Linked DNA regions of Homo sapiens: region 1 is linked to region 2. A link means that fine-mapping ties the variant in region 2 to the expression of a gene that starts in the linked region. Tissue or cell type: blood mononuclear cells. Region 2 holds a variant in brackets; the other region holds the start of a gene. All regions are shown on one strand. Distances are from middle to middle.

The links. PIP is the estimated chance that this variant, and not a neighbour inherited with it, causes the effect.
Region 1: HS1BP3 starts here. The variant in region 2 is fine-mapped to the expression of HS1BP3 in blood mononuclear cells (TOPMed, PIP 0.94).

The regions. Positions count from the first base shown.
Region 1 is chr2:20,649,958-20,652,636 of GRCh38, reverse strand. HS1BP3 (HCLS1 binding protein 3) reads left to right here and starts at 1,539. Exons shown (of 7, transcript NM_022460.4): 1 at 1,539-1,605. The coding sequence starts at 1,574. LOC105373466 (a long non-coding RNA gene) reads right to left here and starts at 1,355. Exons shown (of 2, transcript XR_001739320.2): 1 at 1,285-1,355; 2 at 437-662. RefSeq lists enhancers at 1,121-1,858, 1,943-2,092, 2,113-2,192 and a silencer at 1,273-1,862.
Region 2 is chr2:20,620,231-20,622,909 of GRCh38, reverse strand. The region is part of intron 6 of HS1BP3 (HCLS1 binding protein 3); the gene reads left to right. Among named protein-coding and RNA genes, the nearest start is that of HS1BP3-IT1, 29 kb to the right of the region's middle. The variant G/A (reference allele first, on the strand shown) is at 1,125.

The sequences.
Region 1 (2,679 bases), 30 kb before region 2:
TTTAGAAAGCCTTTCCAGACCCCCACCCACTCCCCATGTAGGAGGGCAAAGAAGTCCACTGAAGGCATCTAAAGTGTCTTATTCACTGTGTTTCTGTCTGTTGGATAAATGTGAGTGCAATGGTGACTGCTCGACTGCCTGGCACTACACTCAGACTCCTGGAATGCTGAAGCCTATACTGCTTTCTGTCCAGACCCTGAACTCCCTTTCTCTAAAGTAGGGCATGCCAATTTAAACAAAACACGGAGGACCATTTGCAGCCATGAACACGGCCCTGCAGACGGACAGGCCGATGAGCAGCAGAGCAGACAGGGGTTCCCGCCATCATCCCAGCTCTTCACTGCAGCCTTCAAGGGTCTCCCTCAGAACTTTCATTCATTGTCATACTTCATTCATGATTGCTCATCTTGCCTATAAACAAATCTGAGACAAATAATAAGGCATATCAATGTCCGTATTTATTCAAGAGATACATTGGGGAAAGTCATTTTTCAAAATCTTTTACTGTAGGATTTCTTCACTAAAATCTGTAAAAACTGGTAGATATTGTTGGTGATGCTGGTGGCGGTGGTTGATAGGCTCAGGAAACATGGCTGACATCGCCCTGCCGTGAATTCTGGTATAGTTAAGCCCAGCTTCTCTTTCTTTTTGTCACTGGGGCTCTGGGTGGAGGGAGTAACAGAACAGGGGCAGCAGTTTGCACCTTCTGCTGGCCCTGTTTGCAGACTCAGCTTTTCTTTCCCTGGGCTACGTTGGCAGGTGATACGATCTCTCTGTTCCTCACCCCATGGAGAGGTGAATCTAAAATGAGTGGGTCTGTTAGGGTCTGCATGTCTGTACGTTCCCCTTCTGAGGGGAACTGGCTCCTGGACCCCGTTGCCCTGCTCCAGCTGGGGACCCAAGTGCAGCCATCCCAGGCAGGCCCGGCCCCGGGAGGCCTCCACCAGGGCTCTGCCAAGCAGCAGAGGCTGCCTCTCTAAAGATCCCCTGTCGGGAGAGTGCCTGCCATTTATGGAGCGGGCAGGCAGTAGGAACCAGATAGGCGAGCTAGCTGGAGGCAGCAAGCTCAAGGGGACTGGGCTGCTGCGTGGCGTTCACTGTGCAGCTTGAAGAAGACCCCACGAAGCCTGGACAGAGCCCCAGCTTGGTAAATATTTGTTGACCGATCGGTTGAATGAAATGGTCTTGGGGCAGAGGGGGAGTGGTTTTGTAATGGGGACTGGCGGCGGAAACAGCAGAGTCCCGTCTCTCTAACGGCTAAACTTTAGCGCAAAACAGACACACCGATTAAGGTTCACCGTGTGCCAGGGCCAGGCTGGGCTTCTTCTAGGTGGTTGCGGCGGGCGCGGCTCAGCCTGGGTGCTCCGGAAGCTCCGAGCAGCGCAGGCCGACGGCGACCGTGCGGGACCCGCCCAGCCGCGCTTCCGCCCCGCCTCTGGCCACAGGCGCGAACTGCGCGGCCGCTGCCACCAGGGGGCAGGCCAGGGCAGCGGGAGGCAGGGCGGGGACGCGGTGACGCGGGCACTGCCGGGTCCCGTGACTGCGCGCCCCGCCCGGAGTCCCCGCCGCCGTCATGCAGTCCCCGGCGGTGCTCGTCACCTCCAGGTGAGCCAGACCCCCGCGCCCCACACCGCACAGCTCGCAGTCCGGGGCGCCCGGGCGGAGAGGCGGGGGGAGGCCGCCGCCTCCTAGGCCAGGGACCTGGTGCAGGTCTCCCCAGCGCCCTCGGTGGCTTATCCGGGCTGGGCCCCTGCACCGCCCTGCAGGAGAGGTGGCGACCCCGATTTACAGATGAGGAAACCGAGGCCCTCTGGAGGGTAGAGAACTAGCCAAGGACAGCGGGAGCCCTGGGACTGACTGGTTCAGTGCAGGCGGGCGCAGTGGGGACTCTGCTCTCCTTTCCTACCGCCTTGGGTTCTTCTCTTTTGAGCCCGAAAATCTAGTTCCCCATCCTTTCAGAGCTCCCTGAGTCCCAGGCCCGGTGCTGGGCACTGGGGACAGAGGCGAATCAGACAAGCTCGCCCTGCAGGGGGCTGCAGCGGAGAGGGGGTGATGCCAGCAGCGGGTAGTAAGCTCAGGTTGCCATGGGAACACAGTACAGGGCAGGAACCCGGTTTCTGGGAGGATGAGTTTGATGAGAGACCAGGGAGAGGTCGTTGCTGCTTGCGAGGCAGCTCAGGAGAGCGCAAGTTACAGCAAAAGCCTTGGAGGGGTCCAGGCGGAGGATGCAGAATGGGTCGGCCCTGATCGAGACCTGGAGGACCCAGCCCAAGGTGGATCCTGGCAAGGCTGGGAGGCACGTGCTTTTACTTCTTTCCGCCTTTAAAACGCTGTAAAGTGATTTACTTCAAATATTTTCATACACTTCACCCTTGCTCTCCCTACACAAAGTCTTAGGCTAAGATGCCAATTTATGACATAAATGAACGTGTTACCCAGCCAACTGTTGATCTTCCAGTTGTAATCAGGAATTCCCCGTGACTTCAGGTCTAGAAAGGTATGATTCCTTTTGTAAACCCTGATGTCGGAGGCTGCTTGGTCTTTCATGATCAAGTGTGGTTACAGTTGTATCTTCATGGGCAGAAGAGGTTTCCCTACTGCCACTTACGTCACCTCCTCTCACCAAGCCTCAGTTTCCTTTTCTGTGAATTGGAGGTTTCAGATTGGCAGGCATGAGCA
Region 2 (2,679 bases):
CCCGCCAAGCCTGAGTCACCGTGACGGCTTCTGGTATTTACATGTCCCCAAGGCCCCTGGCATCTGTTCACTCTCATCCTGTGTCCTCGCTCCTGACATCCCAGCGGGCTGGAAGAAACCAGGATTGTTATTTTATTAGAGGGAAACCGAGGCACAGGGAAATGAAATACTAGAGTCTGCCTGCGGAGCAGCAGGGCCAGGCCGAGCATGTCTAGGAGTCCATGTGTCCCAGTGGGGTGGCTCTCGTGGGACCTTTCTGGCCTAGTTTATTCTAAATCCGTTACTTCCCAACCTGTGTTCTGCAGAACGTGGTACAGTGGGGTGGTCAAAGGCTATCTTCAAAGGGGCTCTGTGGCTGATGAATTGGGGAAATGCCACAAAAAGCAGGGCTCGTAGTGCGCGGGCCAGCACCACATGGCACTTCACGTTCTCATTCATCCCTGGGCCCCCCACTCTGTGGTGCCCCTTAGCATCCCGCAGAGCGCTTGGGGAGTCCCTGCTCAAAAAGTGTGGGTCCCGCACCCCCACCTTCACTTTAGCAGACATCTGCTAATGAAAGGATTAACTGCTTTTCTTTTTTTTAAATTCAGACAAATTCAAAAAGAGCCGTAACACTGGGATTAGCTTCTTGAGAGCAGGAACCACATTCATTCTTTGTGTCTGCCCTGTGACTATCCAGGGAGTAGTTGGACTTCCTCATAATAAAGAATGTTCTGATAGCCATTCATTCATTCATGCTTTCACCCCTTCGTTCATTCTGTCACTAGCCTCAGCCACCCTGAGGCCGCGTGGGGTGTACACTGAGCGGGTCGAGGCTAAGAAGGCTTTGTTCCTTCTGGCTGTGCAGCCACACCAGGGCAGGGCCTCTAGTCTAGATGTTTAGGTGAGTCTTGTCTTCCGCAGGAACCCAGGGAGAAGGAATGGGGCCAGGGTCTTAGAGCTCCCTTACCCCCCACTGGTTGACCTCACACCAGCTGGGCCTGGAGGAGAAAAGAGCTGGACCTTGCGCTAGTGAGAGCTAGTCCTAGTCATGACTCAGAAATAGGGTGCTTGGAAAAGGGGTGCCTTGCAGCCTCCTGTGTCCCAAGAGCAGCTATGCTGCCTCCCACCGTGGCTGACCACCC[G/A]TGTACACCACCCACCTGGGAGCAAATCCAGCTGCTGATTAGTTCCAAAGAGTCACTGCTTTGCCAAGCAGGCTAATCCTGAAATCTGACATAAGCCTCTAGCGGCTGCTTTATTTTCCAAAGGGCCCCTATTTGAGGATAATTCAGTCCCTTTGAGCTTTTCCCAGGTACCCTCAGCCTTCAATGGAGGCTGCATCATGCCAGTGGAGCTGGCACCTGCCCTGGGGGAGTCAAGGAAGGGCTGCCACTTGGAGGGAGCTCCGGAACATCTGACCTGAGGTGGCCAGGAGCAGACTGGCCATGAGTGACACCTCCTGAAATCACCTCTACCCCAAGACAGCTGGTCTGTCTATGAAGGCCCGGCTTGGGCCAGTCCCTCTGGGTTTGTTCAAGAAGGACACCTTTTATTCATTTCTCTGCCATCCAAACAGACTCTGAATTCTCTCTCTGGGGTTTGTGCCCCATCACAGGAGGTTGAGCCAGGAAGCAGGCAGGGTGTCCGGAGCTCCTTCCACAGCTGGCTCCAGGCAGGCATCCACCCCTGGGGGTGCTGTGCTGGACACCTCCATACTCACACAGGCTCTCTGGTAGTGCCAGGAGTTGTCCTGATCAGAGGTATCGCCTCTCTATCCCCACCCCTGCCCGGCCCTGCCCCAGGGCAAGAAGCCGCTGCTCATGAGCCTGCCTGGTTCTTCCTGTTCATTCTCATTCCCACCTCCAGACCTCTGCTGTCTGCTCCCTTCTTCAGAATTCTCTCCCCTATTCATGCCAGGCTCACCCTTCTGAAAAGACCCACCTTCCCAGGAGGCCTTCCCAGCCTGCTCTGGCCCAAGGGCTCACTCCCTTCTCTGGACTTCAACACCTTCTTTCCAGGCCTTTGCAATTATGTGGCCCCTGTCTGACTGGGCTGGGGGGTGTCCCTCATTGTAGGTGGAGGCACTGCTTTTCTGTGTCTTATGCCCACTTGCTCAGCCCCTGTGGCTGTCAGTAGACATCAGTACATACAGCCTTCCTGTACATTTGGAAACTACTTTCCTTGTGTTGTCTTATTTGATCCTTGTAAGAATCCCTGTGAGGATGGTAGAGCAAGTACAATCCCACTTTATAGAAGAGACTGAGGACCAGGGAGGAGGAGTGGCCTGAGGCTGCCTGATGGAGGAGTTGCAGGGTGAGGAACGGAAGCCAGTTCTCCTCCTGCAGTGCTGTGCTTCTGTGTACAGTTCCGTGCAGCAGTGCCAGTGACACTGTTACTCCTGCTTGTAGATGAGGAAGCCGAAGCTTGTAGAGACCAAGTGGGTGCTACAGGTCTTCTGCCTTCACTCACCTGATTCCAGCATGGCTGAGCGATAGACGTAGAGATGCCCGTTAGCACAAGGGAAAACCTCGCCGTGACACTGGAGTCTAGGTGCCCCAGCCAGGGGAACACACCCCAGAGAACCAGCCACATGCAGGCCAAGTCCTGTTCATCCTCACACTAGCTGTGGGTCTCAGGGCAAGGCCCTTTGCCTCTCTGCACCTCAGTATTCTCAGCTGTAAAACGGGGCTAATCTCTGCG